Regions from separate parts of the Homo sapiens genome. Here region 2 is linked to region 1. Evidence: fine-mapped expression QTL. Tissue or cell type: cerebellum. Region 1 holds a variant in brackets; the other region holds the start of a gene. All regions are shown on one strand. Distances are from middle to middle.

Region 1 (8,102 bases):
TTTGAGACCAACCTGGCCAACATAGCAAAACCCCGTCTCTACTAAAAATAATTTAAAAAGCCAGGCGTGGTGGCACGAGCCTGTAATTCCAGCTCCTTGGGAGTCTGAGTTAGGAGAATCACCTGAACCCGGGAAGTGGAGGTTGCAGTGAGCCGAGATCACACCACGGCACTCTAGCCTGGGCGACAGAGGGAGTCTCCATCTCAAAAAAAAAAAAAAAAGTTATGTAAATGTGGTCGCTCCAAATACAGTGTACTCAACTTTTTTTTTTTTTTTTTTTTTTGAGACAGAATCTCGCTCTGTTGCCCAGGCTGGAGTGCAGTGGCGTGATCTCGGCTCACTGGGAGCCTCTGCCTCCCAGGTTCAAGCGATTCTCATGCCTCAACCTCCCAAGTAACTGGGATTACAGGCATATGCCACCACACCCGGCTAATTTTTGTGTTTTTAGTAAAGATGGTGTTTCGCCGTATTAGCCAGGCTGGTCTTGAATTCCTGACCTCAGGTGATCCACCTGCCTTGGCCTCCCAAAGTGCTGGGATTACAGGCATGAGCCACTGCGTCCGGCCAGCTATTTCTGGATTGTGGTGGACCACGGATAACTGAAATCACAGAAAGTGGAACCTCACGTCAGGGGGGACTCCTGAATACATTCAGATTGCTTACTACCTGTATACTTGTCTGCACTGAAAATTTTTCCGAGAATTGCTTGGGTACCTTGGGTTGGGATGGAATACATTTTTCCCATTTGCATTCATGAAAGTATATTTCTTTTTTAGACAAAGTCTCACTTTATCACCTAGGCTGGAATGCAGTGGCGCGATCTTGGCTCACTGCAACCTCTGCCTCCCAGGTTCAAGCAATTCACGTGCCTCAGCCTTCTGAGTAGCTGGAATTACAGGCGTGCGCCACCATGCCTGGCTAACTTGTGTATTTTTTGTAGAGACGAGGTTTTGCCATGTAGGCCAGGCTGGTCTCGAATTCCTGACTTTAAGTGATCTGCCTGCCTCGGTCTCCCAAAGTGCTGGGATTACAAGCGTGAGCCACTGTGCCTGGCCGCATTCATGAAAATATTTTTATTTAACAGCTTCTCACTTAGCAGCAGGGTTTCCAGTAACAAATCCATTAAGTGGGGGAACAGGTGGATACTTGTCCATCCACACATACAGACGTGAGACACCTAGGGTCCCTGCTGTGCACACACACGGACAAGATATGCAACTTTAGTCACTAAATCCTGGTGGATGTGACCCAAGCCACATGTCAACTTTTTGTTGACAGCAAAACAGCGACATTGAGGGATGTTTCTTAGACAGAAAGAGCAGACCCATCTCCATGCTGGGGTGTGTATGAGGATGGGGGTAGTGACCTCTGGGGCTGGGTGTTACAAAGGGAAGGCCAACCCTGCAGCCAGGAGAAGGGGAAGATCGCAGAGCCCCAGAGGTCAGATGCTGGGAGGAGCTCAGCTCCCAGGATCAGCAGATGCCTTGAGTGCAGGCTGTGGCTGGGGGCTGTGGGGCCTGGTGGGTGGATCCTGGGAGTGGCTGCTGTGGCCGTGGGAAGTTCCTGAGCTGGGTTCAGGTACTGGAGTCGGGAGAAGAAGGAAGGGCCAAGGCCACTCGCCTTTAGTCAGCCCAGAAGCAGCCCATGTGACCCTGTGATCCTTTTAGGTTTTCCTTCTGTGCTTTCTCTGGCGATCCAGGCTTTCCTCTCTGCCCACAGCCCTCCACAGACCACGTGGTGGTAGCCTGAGCCCCCAGACCTTGTGCTTTGGGCTGAGTCCTTCTTGTAGCTCTGGTCTTCCCTGAGGAGAAGGTTGCCCGGGAGTCGTACCTGGATTCTGGGGATGGATGTGATCTCAGCCAGGTCACCTTAGTTCTCTGGGCCTCAGTTTCCTCATCTGTGACACGTGGTCAGTCTCTTCCCTGCCCCTTCAGGCCTGTCATGAGGGTCGGGGGAAGGAGCTTGTGGAAGCCCCTTGATGGAGGGAGCTGCTGTAACCACCGTCTCCCAGCGCATGTAAGGCTATAGTTGTCAGCCAGGATCCAGAAGCCTCACCGCTGCCCTTCCTTCCTGCAGCATCGGCTGCCACCACCAGAATCTGGCGGCACCATGCGGCACTTGTCCTAGTCAGTTCTACCTTGGTGCTGAGCTATAAGCTTTTGTAAACATCTTCTTCCCTAGCCACCTCCCTGTTCTCACATGTCCTTCAAGACAGCATCTCCCCAGTGTAGACCAAGTGGGGCTCAGCACGGCCATGGTACAGATGGTTTAGGATGGCAGGAGGGGTTCTGCCTGCCACTCCCCACACAGCCCTCTTGTTGTCCCTCCTCCCTCGGCTCCCCTGTCCAGGCTCTGGGGATCGAGTGAGGGCCTGCCTGTCCTGCAGAGACCTTGCCAACCCACTCACCAGCTGGGTGTAGCAGAAGGTGGCATGGAAGCCCAGGAAGGTAGACAAGAAGGCGATGCCTAGTGCCAGGATGGTGAAGAACAGCAGCAGCACCGAGAGACTCTTCCAGGGCACCTGCAAAACCAGGGTGCAAAGCCTGCAAAAACTGGGCAGTTTTACAGGCCAGCCAGTCCCGGAATCAGTCTGCAGATTCTGACCAAGGAGATGGATAAAAGAAGGGAAGCTTTCTAGAAGGGGAGTGACCTGTCATCTAGTGAGCACCTGTTACGTGCTTATTTTAATCTTAGTTGCCTTATTAGATAGCTACTCTGATTAGCCCCATTTCACAGAGGATGAAACAGAGGTTCAGAAAAATTGAGGTACTTGTCCAAAGCCACACAGCTGGTATGTGAAAGCTGGGATTCAGACCCATCCAATTCCAAGACCCATGTGGTCAACCATTCAGACTGACACCCATCAGCAAAAAAGTACAGAAAGGTCAAGTAAGAAAATACATGGAAAAGCATGTATTTGGCAGTAAGCTACTGGCGGCTGCCCTGAGAGGGCTTGAGGTCTGTAGAGACGGGAGAGGAGGAGATGGAGTCCGTAGGAGATTGTTGCTGTGAAAGGGAAGAGAGGGGAGACCACAGTCAGAGAGGGACACGGGGTCTCCGGGACTTGAGTTTCTGGACCAGAGGAGAGGGAGAGGCATGGATGGAGGAGAGAGCAGCTAGGGAAGGTGAACACAGTGGACTAGGGTCGTGGGGGCCTAGGAGGAATGATTTGTCCTCTACTGATAAGGAAAGCACAGAGAGGG[G/C]CTGGGTGAAGATCAGTTTCACGTGAGGTCACGGGCAGGAAGTTGAGTCTTGGGGCCGTTCAGGGACCCCAGGCTACAGGGGAAGGTCGGGGATTCTGGGGCAGCTGGGTCACTGAAGTGGTCAAAGTGTGGGCAGCAGTGGGCAGTGTGTCCCTCGCCCCTGCATGGTGTGTCAGACCCACCTGAAGAGAGTGTTTCTCCTTTCCTCTCTTTCCCTAGGATGAGAGCAGAGGAAACTCCTCCCCCAGTATTCCCAGCCCCATTTTTGCCACGTCCAGGTCCCTGGTAGCAATCTCATGACATAATCACATGTCTTTGAAAAGATGTGACCTCAATGGCCACAGCCAGAAGGCAGGACTCACTGATAAATCTTAGGTATTATTATGCTGGCAGTCCTCCTAATGCACCCTTGACCTCTATGCTCTTACAGGGGAACGTCCTTGGTAGGAGGCAAGCAGCTGGAATATCTTCCTCCAAGCAAATGATTATTATTTTTTTTAAGAAACAGGGGCTCACTCTGTTACCCAGGCTGGAGTGCAGTGGCATGATTATAACTCACCGCAGCCTTGAACTCATGGGCTCAAGCAATCCTCCCACTTCAGCCTTCCAAGTAGCTGGGACTACAGGCCTGCACCAACATACCTGGCTAATTTTTTTCAAAAAAATATTTTTGGTTGAGAGTGGGCCTCACCATGTTTCTCAGGCTAGTCTCAAACTCCTGGGTTCAAGCGATCCTCCCGCCTTGGCCTCCTAAAGAGCCACCACATCAGCATTAACACAGGAAAAACTAGTCCAGAGGGAAGTACCTGGGGCTGTCAAATCCTGGTGGAGTTCTGCCTCAGGGAATCTGGAGGTAATTGCTAAACACTTAAACCCTACTCCCAAAAGCTGGGTGTCATGGTACCTGCCTGGAGTCCCAGCCACTCAGGAGGCTTAGGCAGGAGAATCGCTGGAGCCCAGGAGTTTGAGGACAGCATGAGCAAGTTAGCGAGGCTCTGTCTGTATTTAAAGAAAAAAAAAATCCCACTCCCCATTTTAACTTTGACAATAGAGGATAAGAAAATATCTCTTGGTGGTGGTTTCTAGGATTAAATGGTGCCCAAAGAGTGGATGCTTATTCTCTGGGCCTGAGACACTGATCTGGGTATAGTTGTTGCTGGCAGCCAGCTCAACCATGAAGGCACACACCCCGAGGCTGGCACACAGTGAGCTGACCAGGTTTGGCCCTGTGCTGACCTTCACCTGCTAAGGAGACCGGAGCCCGAGTTACTACCCAGCGGGAAGGGGAGAGTGCTGGCTCACATGCCCTCTGTGTTGCGGGCTTCCTTTGCACGCTTTTGATCCTGGAGGAACCACTGACTTGCCCTAGGAGCCAGGAACCAGTGACCAAGGTGACAGCATCTCTGCTCCACCTGCTGGAGCCCATGGGCCACAGAGGCTATGTCAGCCTTAATAGCCAGGAGATGGATTTGTTGCAGGAGCACAGACAGCAACATGTGTGGCCACTTCTTCCTGCAAAGTCCATGGCAGACAACATCCATCAATCCTCAGAACCCACCAGGGCCGCATCGATAGAAAAGCTATTTGCCATCTTTTGTGGGTTGAATTGTATCCCCCCAAAAGATATGTTGAAGTCTTAACCCTGGTACCTGTGAATGGGATCTATTTGGAAATAGGGTCTTTGCAGATGTAATCGAGTTAAGATGAGGTCATAATGGATTATGACTGGTGTCCTTAGAAGAAGGGAAGGGACACAGGGAGAACAGCCCCTGATGACAGAGGCAGAGACTGGCAGGATGTGTCTACGAGCCAAGGAACACCAAGAGTTGCCAGCAACCACTGGAAGCTGGGACGAGGCCAGAAAGCATTATCCCCAAGAGCCTTCAGAGAGAACTCGATCCTGCCAGCACCTTGACTTTGGGCTTCCAGCCTCCAGAATCATAGACTACAGGTTTCTGTTTTCTTTCTTTTTTTTTTTTTTCTTGAGATGGAGTCTCACTCTTGCCCAGGCACGATCTAAGCTTACTGCAACCTCTGCCTCCTGGGCTTAAGCAATTCTCCTGCCTCAGTCTCCCGAGTAGCTGGGATTACAGGCAACTGCCACCACGCCTGGCTAATTTTTGTATTTTTAGTAGAGGCGGGGTTTCATCATGTTGGCCAGGCTGGTCTCGAACTCCTGACCTCAAGTGATCCGCCTGCCTCGGCCTCCCAAAGTGCTGGGATTACAGGCATGAGCTACCAGGCCCGGCCATGTTTCTGTTGTTTTAAGCTACCTGGTGTGTGGTAATTGGTTACAGCAGCCCTAGGATTCTAGTTTCCTAGGTTCAAAACAGACGGCTCTGGTGGGGATGGAGTCCCCTTTCTGGAGGTCGAACCAGGAGGTCCAGCAAGTTTAATGCCATTTGGGTCTGCATGCAACCTATCCGATTAGGGGTGACTTGCTGAGGTCCAGGCTGTATTAAAGGCATGGAGGAGCTGTGGTAAAGGAGAGGAGACTAGAAACAGACTCAAATTAGATACAGGAAGCTTCTATAGGACAGGAGGATGGTCAGGAGCTCAGACCTGCCAGTGAGTAGGATTGCGGACAAAGGCCCACTCCCTACTCGCCCACCATCCTGTGGAAAGGCCCCACAAGCATCCACTTTCATATAAGGTCTTCCAGGATAAGCTGTGCCCAGAGGCAGAAGAAATGTCTATGAAACTCACCCGGGGAACTGTGCAGTTTGCTGAGATGACCAGGGTGGTTGCTCCTGAAACTAAGAACTGCACAGAGAGGCAGGGAGATTGATGGTCTCAGGGAGCCCAGAGGCACCTGCCTCCTGGAAACCCTAATGCAGGGAAGGTTTGCCATGAGCATTTATGGCTTGGCACAGTGGGCCATGTACCAAGTGTCATGCGCGTCCGTGTGAAGAGAGTCCATCAAACAGGCTTTGTGTGAGCAACAAGGCTGTTTATTTCACCCAGGTGCAGGTGGGCTGAGTCCGAAAAAGGAGTCAGTAAAGGGTGGTGGGATTATCATTAGTTCTTACAGGTTTGGGATAGGCGAACAAAGTACCTTCTTAAGGGTACTTTGAATATTACAAAGTACCTTCTTAAGGGTACTTTGAATATTACAAAGTACCTTCTTAAGGGTACTTTGAATATTACAAAGTACCTTCTTAAGGGTACTTTGAATATTACAAAGTACCTTCTTAAGGGTACTTTGAATATTACAAAGTGGTACTTTGAATATTACAAAGTACCTTCTTAAGGGCAGGGGAGAATATATTGTGTCAGTTAGGGTGGGGCAGGAACAAATCACAATGGTGGAATGTCATCAGTTAAGACTATTTTCACTTCTTTTGTGGATCTTCAGTTGCTTCAGGCCATCTGGATGTATACATGCAGGTCACAGGGAAAATGATGGCTTAGCTTGGGCTCAGAGGCCTGACAACAGGGAGTAATGGGGCTTATGGGAACAGAGAAAGGCATCTAGTCCTCCCCACTGGGCTCTGCATAGGTTGGTGAGATAGGATTTTAGAAGGGGGCCACTAAAGATTCCTAGGTACCTGCCGGGCATGGTGGCTCATGCCTGTAATCCCAGCACATTGGGAGGCCAAGGCAGGCAGATCACCTGAGGTCAGGAGTTTAAGACCAGCCTGGCCAACGTGGCGAAACCCTGTCTCTACTAAAAATACAAAAATTAGCCGGGAATGCCCGAAAGATTCCTAGGTAACTGGTCCAGTACTTTTCAAACTTGACAGAGGACATGAGCGCCTAGGGATCTTGTTAAGCTGCAGACTGACTCAGCCCGTGTACGGTGGGGCTTAAATTCTGCATTTATTTATTTATTTATTTATTTATTTTTATTTTTAATTTTTTTTTTGAGATGGAGTCTCCCTCTTGCTCTGTCGCCAGGCTGGAGTGCAGTGGCGCAATCTCGTCTCACTGCAACCTCTGCCTCCCAGGTTCAAGCGATTCTCCTGCCTCAGCCTCCTAAGTAGCTGAGACTACAGGTCTGTGTCACCATGCCCAGCTAATTTTTATATTTTTAGTAGAGATGGAGTTTCTCCATGTTGGCCAGGATGGTCTTGATCTCTTGACCTCGTGATCCTGCCCGCCTCGGCCTGCCAAAGTGCTGGGATTACAGGCGTGAGTCACCATGCCTGGCCTGCATTTTTTTTTTTAAGAGACAGGGTCTTGCTCTCTGGCCCAGGCTGGAATGCAGTGGCACCATCATAGCTCACTGCAGCCTCCAACTCCTGGGCTCAAGTGAACCTCCTGCCTCAGCCTCCTGAGTAGCTGGGACTACAGGTATGTACCACCATACCCAGCTAGTTTTCCTTTTTAATTTTTTTTTCCTTTTTTATATCTTGTTGCATATCAACATTTTTTATTTTTAGTAGAGACAAGGTCGTGCTATGTTGCTCAGGTGTTCTCAAACTCCTTGCCTCAAGAGATCCTCCCCTCAGCCTCCCAAAGCTCTGGGATTGCAGGCTTGAGCCACTGGAGCTGGCCTGAGACTCTGCATTTCTAACAAGCTCCCAGGTGATGCCAAAGATGCTGGTCTCTGGCCCATGCTTGGAGGTGGGAGGGACTAGTCTCTCATTTTGAAGATGGAGAAACTAAGACTGAGAGAAGGAGGCAACCTGCCTAAGTCACAGGGCTGCTAAGTGATAGATCTGGATCTAGAAATCAAGTCCCAGGGGCTTTTGTTTCATTGTAGTGGCTGAGCGCCTTGACTTGAGTGTTACCCTCGGGGTAAGTCCCCAGGGACACCACCTTTCTCCTTCCTCGGCTGCATATATTGGGGCAGAGGCCCTTTGCCACGACTCCCCCCACCACACGCTGTGAACCAGCTTCAGCTCTTTAGCTGGCCGCCTCAACAGCCCAGTGCCTCCCCTGGGCCATCCAATCCCA
Region 2 (8,102 bases), 42 kb before region 1:
GCCAGGCATGACAGACAGATTCCCTCGGGTCACCCCCACTGGCATCCTGGGCACCTGGGTTGGTTTTGCCTCTTGAGTCAGCAGGTCCAGGAGGCCCCTAACAATGAGGGGTTCCTCCCCCACCCAGTTCCTCTCCCACCACATCCTCAGAGAGGTATCTTCAGCTTCATCTGTGGCTTCTTAACCTGACATTAGGAGGGGCAACAGCCGTAGCCTCAGCCTCCTCCTGGGACCTGGAAGGGGACACTTTCAGTTGCTTTGAGCTTGGTTCTTGGAGAGACCAAGACAGGGCTCTCTCAGGACTCCAGCTCTCTCAGGACTGGCCCTGGGCTTCTAGCCAAGCCCTGCAGGCCAGGCATGGAAGGGCTCCACTTAACACTCATGTCTGCCCTGAGAGAGGGACATTTCCCCTGCCCAGCAGGGGAGGCTGGGAAGAGGTGGGCCCCTTGCCTAAGATCACATAGCCGGGTAACAGCAGAGCCTGGGTTTGAGCTGAGATGGCTCCGAAGCCTGTACTGAGCTCGCCTGTGCCCCTGACACCCTAGCACACAGCCACGCCTGTAGGAGGAGGGCTGCCCTTACTGGAAGGTGCTGTCCCGCGTGATGGAACCCTGTGGCCCCTTTTGGATGTGGATGCCAGACACCAGCCAGTTCTCATAGATGAGCTGGTCGCCAGCCACCTGTAGGAAGAGACAGCTGGGTGAGGCTTTCTGGTGGGGGACCAGGCCCCAGCCTGTGGTCCCGGCTCCTACCTGCATTGTGGTTCCACAGTGGGTGAGAGGGAAGTAGAAGACCACGAAAGCTTCCGTGTGCTGTGTTGGGGAGCAGCTGGTGGGGGCATAGGCCAGGTGGATGTTGGCCAGTGTGATCCTGTGTGTCAAGGCCATTTCTTGGGACACCACGAGGACGAAGTAGCCATCTCTGAAGCACTGGACAGTAGCTGGGACAAAGGCAGATGAGGGCCTTGGGGTTTGGTGTCCATCCAGCACAGAGACGGGATGGCTGGGTGACAGCCAGGCTTTAAGTGCCGGTCTAGGAGAATGGACGCTTACTCTCCACTTAGGCTGGTGTTGGCCCCAGCAAACCCTTTATGGACTGATTTTCTCATCCATGTGACAAATGAGTTGAACTACACTCTAAAAGTAGGTTCACCATATAATCTGTCATCCAAACCAGGGCGTTTCAGATCTGAAAGTCCAGATGTGTGTAAGGTAGATCTATTAATAGTTCCCTGGGACAGTTGTTATAAGGCCAGCTGGGACATGTGACCGCCCCATCTAAAGGTCTCCTCTGCCATCTGCTCTGGGAGTTGGGCTCTCCAGGAGGAGGATAGGAAGCAGTTTCCACCAGCTGGAGGAGACAGCTCTCCTTCCGCTTCAGAATCCAAGGGACCAGGATCTTGCTGGGGTGGGAGGTTGTACCTGTGTTGCCATAGTAACAGGGAACCTCTCTGGTGTTGTCATAGCAGCAGCCAGCCTGCTGACAGGCTTCTTTTGAAGTTCTTCTCACGATGCAGGGGAGGTGCCCTGAGGCCACCTGGCACTGCTCCTGGCTCAGGTGGGTACCTAGGGTTGGGACAGAGTGATGAGGCTGAAGGCACACAGTTTGCAAATCATGGCCCTGGAATTGAATCTTGGGAACCTGCTCCAGAGCTTGTGCTCTTAGCCAGCACAGTAAATGTCCTCCCTCAAAACTGAATATTACTGAAATTTCTAGAGAATATTTTCTGAGAATCAGGTGTTGCTGGCAATGGTTTCAATGAGTTTCTGCCTAAAGTTAGGAAACAAATTTACAAGACCTCTTCTAGCTTTAGTACACCTATACATGTTTAAAGCTGTTTTCCAAATACTACAAAGGAATAAAAGAATCATCTTTTTCTAAAAAAAGAAAAAAACAAAAAAAGAAATGGCTTAGAGCCCAGTAAAAGGCTGTTAGGCCACCCTGTACTCCAGAAGTCCCCAGACAGAGGGTAAGTACACTCAGATGTCCTGCGTACCTATGTAATCTCGTTTGTTCACATCCCAGTGTTCCAAGGTGCCCCAGTGGGGTTGAGCCAGGGTGGCGAGGGTAGGTCCAGGTCCAGGGGATGGTAAAGCAGGGGTTGGGTGGACAGAGCTGTGCCCTGGGTCCAGTGGGCTGGGAAAGGCATGGCCAGAGCCTTGGGAGGTATGGCCAGAGGTGGGGAGGAAGGAAAGGGTTTGTGGGGTTGAGACAGAGAACATGGCGGGTGGTGCCAGCTGGGAGTCCAGAGTCCGGGAGGGGTCAGGTTTGGGACAGATCAGAGTAGCGTCTTGTGCCACATCCACACGACCATTGGGCAGCACAGCCTCCATGAACACCCTCAGGTGGAAACGCCCATCCTGCAGGTGAGAGGCCATCATAGAGCAGCAAGGTGAGGCCACCTAGCATACCCAGGCAGGGGACGGGCCCACGAGAGCTGAGCTGGCCATTAGGCAGGGAGCTGGATTCATGGTGGATTCCAGAAAGTACCTTCCAGAGCTTAGTTTCCCTCACCCACCAGCTCAACAGATCTTCGGCTTTGGCTCCTTTCTGGTTCATGAGGGGCCTCTTCAGCCTGACATGACACTAGGACAAGCTTGCCCCTGTGCCAGAGCATGAACAACCCCTACCTTCTCCAGCACGTGGCAGCCTCTGTAATCGGCCGAGAAGACTGCAGGCTCCTGCGGCCTGGAGGTGACCCAGTGGTAGCAGATGGAGCAGTTGTTGACATCAAATCGGTTCCCAAATTCATCTGCAGTGGGGGAAGGGGAGGGGCCAGGGATGTTGAAGGGTGCAGGGAGAGGTTGCTGGGGTCTCGGAAGGAGTTCCCACTCAGCAGCCAGGAGACCTGGGTTCTTGCCTTAGCTTTGCTATTAGTTTGTTGTGTGGTCTTGGGCAAGCCCCCTCCCCTCTCTGCTCTCAGTTTCCACAGCTGTAAGGGGATGGGAGGGTCTTAGGATCTTTCTAGCTAGGGTTCCCTGCTCACAGCACACGGCAGCAGGCAGGCACGAAGATGAGGTGGAGAAGGGATACACAGGGTCTCAGGCACTGGCCTGAGTATTTCACATCACTTCTTTTAAGCTTAGTTATCCACATCCTGTGGCTGAGGCAGCTGAGGAAGGGAGGGTGCGTGAGCTTTCTTAGGTGCACACAATGAGGGGCAGAATGAGGATTTGAATCCTGGGCTTTGTAGAAAGATCTGAACCCATTTCCCAGGTTAACTGTGGCTGCTGCAGTTGCTTGGAGACACCCCCTAGGTGTCCACCCTGCTTGTTGCCCCAGAACAGCCTGGGCATTCCCTGGGTGTGGGCATGTCCCCATGCCCTTGTTCCATGAGCACGGCCAGGTTCATCTTCCCCACCTTGCAGATGAGGAAACAGAGGCTTATGAGTCAGGTCAGTTGTCCAAAATCATCCCGTTTAGAAGCTGCAGATCCAAACCCCAGTTCTAAACCCACACCAGGCCACGCCTACTAGGTCCTGCTGCTGGAAGTGGTTTATGGACCCTCAGCCTCAGTTTTGACTGAGCGTGGTTAGAGATGCAGAGCCTAGGCTGGGTGCAGTGGCTCACGCCTATAACCCCAGCACTTTGGGAGGCTGAGGCAGGTGGATCACCTGAGGTCAGGAGTTCGAGACCAGCCTGACCAATATCGTGAAACTCCATCTCTACTAAAAATACAAAAAGTAGCTGGGCGTGGTGGCACACACCTGTAGTCCCAGCTACTAAGAGGCTGAGGCAGGAGAATTGCTTGAACCTGGGTGGTGGAGGTTGCAGTGAGCTGAGATCGTGCCAACTGCACTCAAGCCTGGAGAACAGATTGAAAGAAGTGAGACTGTCTCAGAAAAAAAAAAAAAAAAGAAAAGAAATGCAGAGGCTTGGCCCTGCCCCAGGTCCACTGAATCAGAACCTGCACCTCAACAAGGTGGCCAGGTGTTTCCCATGCACACTAACGTGGGAGAAGCTGCCCTGGGTGATGATTCTCCTCCTTGCCCTTTTCTGTGGTGAGGGGGTGGGGGGCTGGACACCCCCAGGCTGGAGGGAGGCCTCTGTTCTTGCTCCTTCAGGGGAAGGGTCCCAGCTCCCTTCTGGCAGCAGCCCGTGGCCAGGGAGGCAGGGGCCAGGACTCTGCCAGCACTCACCCACCACCTTGAAGCGGAGAGTCTGGCCTGGCCTGGGGAACACCAGCAGCTGCATTCCCTTGATCCCACAGTCGTAGCTGTGCCGGAGGCCTGGGAGGCCAGGGTCGGGCTGGAGCCACCTACCCAGCCCCAGGGTGGCAACCAGCAGTAGCAGGGCCACAGGGTAACCCCAGGTCGTGGCTGAGCCTCCTGCCATGAGACGCCACAGACACACCCCCTACTCCCTCGCCACCAGAGCTGGGCCCAGGCCTTTTATGGAGGAGGTGGCAAGTGGGTGCCTGTAAGGGCAAAGGGGGCCCACCTGGAGGAGCACCCACCTGGCCACCAGGGGCTGTGGTGAAACTCCTGTTCCAAAGGCAGCGGGAGGCAGAAAGCTGCACGTGGCCCCTCACCCTGGCTTTCTGTCTCACAGCTGTGGCTTTGGAAGGGAGGAGGGAGCTTTCCAGAAAACTGAGGTTGCAGATGGGCTGTGGGAAGGGATCCAGGGCTAGGAGGTGGCACTGCAGACCTCAGGCCCTCCACTGTCTCCCTCTCACCCCAGCCTTTCTGCATTCCCTTCCTGCCCCAACAGGCTCTCCAGGTCCTCCTTCCTGCCTTGAGGCCTCAGGACCACTGGGAGCTGCCGGCCTGGTTAGTACAGTCACAGCTCCTCAGGCAGGGCTTTAGGGGCATTAGAGCAAGACCAGGAAGACACAGCCCTCAGAGCTGGCAGCGGAATGGGGACTGCAGGTGAGTAAACAGACCAGTAGCACCTCCAAGGGCTCTCCTGAGGATTCAGCCGGTCAGTATGATGATGACTATGACTAATAAAAAATAACAAGGACAACTAAATGTAATGTGGCATCTGGATGGGATCGTGGAACAGAAAAAGGCAGTAAAAGTGAAGAAAGTGGATTTTAGTTAATAATAATGTGTCCACATTTGTTTGTTCATTAATTGTAATAAATGTATCATACTCAAGTAAGATCAGTTATGGGGTAAACTGGGCCTGCGGTGTATGGGAACTGTCTGTACTATCTTCTCAGTTCTGTAAATCTAGAACAGTTCTAAGACATAAAAGTGGCTGGAAACAACAAGAATGGCCTGTGGTCTGCCATGATTACAGTGCCAGGTCTTGCTTGTGTTAGATCCTTATACCGCCTGACCATCCTCTGAGGAAGGGACTGTCACCAGCCCCACGTCCTGGCACTAATTCCTGCAAGTGATTAGCCTAGGGCCCAGCAGCGTTTGAGCTCAGCAAACATTAGAAAATGCAGCTATTATAATTAGCAGCTGCTGGAAGGGGAGAGCAAGAGGCTTGATAGCTAAGAGCCCGGTTCTGGTGAGGTTGCAGAGAAAAAGGAATGCTTATACGCTCTTGGTGGGGGTGTAAATTGGTTTGACCACTGTGGGAGTGTGGTGATTCCTCAAAGAGCTGAAAACAGAACTATCATTTGATGCAGAAATCGCATTACTGGGTATATATCCAAAGGAATATAAATTGTTCTATCATAAAGACACTGAACCTGCGTGCATATGTTCAGTGCAGCATGATTCACAATAGCCAAGACATGGAATCAAATGCCCATCAATGGTAGACTCAATAAAGAAAATCTGGTACATGCTGAGCACGGTGGCTCACGCCTGTAATCCCAGCACTTTGGGAGGCCGAGGCGGGCGGATCACGAGGTCAGGAGATCGAGACCATCCTGGCTAACATGGTGAAACCCTGTCTCTACTAAAAATACAAAAATTAGCTGGGTGTGGTGGCACGCACCTGTAGTCCCAGCTACTCAGGAGGCTGAGGCAGGAGAATCGCTTGAACCCAGGAGACGGAGGTTGCAGTGAGCCGAGATTGTGCTGTTGCACTCCAGCCTGGCCGACAGAGTGAGACTCTGTCTCAAAAAAAAAAAAAAAAAAAGAAAAAGAAAAAAAAAAAAGGAAAATGTGGTACACATACACCATGGAATACTATGCAGCCATAAAAAAGAATGAGATCACATCTCTTGCAAGAACATGGATGGAGCTGGAGGATATTATCCTTAGCAAACAAATGCAGGAACAGAAACCAATACCACATGTTCTCACTTATAACTGAAGGCTAAATGATGACAACATATGGACACATAGAGGGGAATGGCACACACTGGGGCCTATTGAAGGGTAGAGGGTAAGAGGAAGGAGAAGGGTGGAAATAATAACTATTGGGTGCTAGGCTTAGTATCTGGGTGATGAAATAATCTGTACAACAATCCCTCTGGACATGCATTTACCTATATAACAAACCTGCATAAGTAACCCTGAACCTAAAATAAAAGTTTAAACAAAAAAAGTTGGTTCTAATGGTGCCCCAACCACTTTCTTAGCTGTGACTCAGATGCATTATCTATTCTGAGCCTCAGGTTTCCTGTTTGTAAACTGGGGGTGATAATGCTTTCCTTGCCCACATGGTGGATAGGAAGACACAAAGAGACAAGTCATGGGTACCAGGTGCAGTAATGATTTAATGCTTGGCAATAATTCACTTCTACTGTGATTAAAGCTCAGCTGGGAAAGCTTGGTGGGGCGGGGTGGGAGTCCCTCTGGGGGCACAGTGGGAAGAGGCACCCAACACAGCATCGAGGATGGGCGACATGGAAGTGTTTTTGGAGGAAAGGGGTCCTGAGCAGAGGTGGGAGGAGGCGGGGAGGACAGGGATGGTGCAATGGGGATCTGGGGAGAGCAGAGCTGGAGGAGGAGGGAGGAAGCAGGTCACACAAAGGTCCAGGACAAGGACTCCAGGCAGGCTGAGGGTGCTGGCGAGGGAAGGACTAGGAGGGGAAGGAGAGGAGCCAGGCAGGAGCGGGGAGTGGGGTGGATTTTCCCTGAGGGACGATGTGGAAGTTTTAAACTTTTAATTTTGAAATTATTTCAGATTTGCAGAATTTCCATATAGCCTCCTCCAGATTCCTCAGATGTTCACTGTTCACTTTTTACATTTGCTGTAGCTCCCGCTTTCTCTCTCTGCATGTGTGCAGACATACACGCACGCACACGCACACACGCACACATTCTTCCATATCATTCAAGAGTCAGTTGCAGAAATGACAGATTCCCCTTTACCTCTAATTGCTTCAGTATACATTTCCTAAAAAAACAAATCACCCCTACAGTCAAATGATCAAAATCAGGAAACCAACAATGGTATAAACACAACGATCTAATCTGCAGACATTATTGTAAGAAATAAAGAGGAAAGCAACATGAAAGGGCGGTTCAACAGGCAACAGGGACAGGTTTATGTTGAGTAAACCTGAGAGGGGCGGCTGGCCGAGTTAGGTCAGAGCCCCACTCTCTTACAGATTAAGAGTTAAGGATTCAGGGCGGGGGAGTTTATCAGAGGCTTGGACTGCTCCTGTGTCTCTTTGCTGTGCGTATCTGGGAGGGAGAGTTGTGTGTCTGTTCCCATATATCTTTCTGCAGCTACAGGCATATCCCCAGAGTCTGCTTTTAGCTTCCCTATCTTAGTGCCCCTGAAGGAAAAGGAATGTGCTTATTAAGGCCCACTGTTTTACTGGGGCTCATTGTGTGAGGGTGAAGTTTGGCAGTTACCAAAGAGACCTTCCCTCCACCCCGCTCTGTGCCGGAGCTGTCTTATCTGTATTTTACTGTCTGCTCTTTCTGGCTGTTGTAGTTAGAAGAGAAGTGATTTCCTTGAAATGCATGAGGCTAGAAAGGGAGCTGGAGCTTAAAGTGGCAGTATTTGTCCGAGATGACGGTGCTCCTGCTCTGACAATTACTCAACATCTGCCGACTGTCCTAACTGTGACTTTCATGGCAAAGGAGTACAGTGGTTTTGGGAGTCTGCAGGATCCAATCCAGGCTCAGAGTCTCGCTGGCGTGCCTCTTGGCCTCCTCTGATCTGGGACCGCCCTTCTATCTTCTTTTGTCTTTCATACCCTTGACATTTTTTAGTACAGCCGGATGATTTTGCAGAATGGCCCT

The links. PIP is the estimated chance that this variant, and not a neighbour inherited with it, causes the effect.
Region 2: ZP1 starts here. The variant in region 1 is fine-mapped to the expression of ZP1 in cerebellum (GTEx, PIP above 0.99).

Annotation. Positions count from the first base shown.
Region 1 is chr11:60,822,290-60,830,391 of GRCh38, reverse strand. The region is part of intron 2 of LOC105369322 (a long non-coding RNA gene); the gene reads left to right. Among named protein-coding and RNA genes, the nearest start is that of CCDC86, 16 kb to the left of the region's middle. The variant G/C (reference allele first, on the strand shown) is at 3,204.
Region 2 is chr11:60,863,795-60,871,896 of GRCh38, reverse strand. It overlaps ZP1 (zona pellucida glycoprotein 1), which reads right to left and starts at 4,355. Exons shown (of 12, transcript NM_207341.4): 1 at 4,140-4,355; 2 at 2,631-2,752; 3 at 1,997-2,360; 4 at 1,422-1,565; 5 at 753-940; 6 at 583-680. The coding sequence starts at 4,335. RefSeq lists silencers at 7,403-7,620, 7,467-7,761.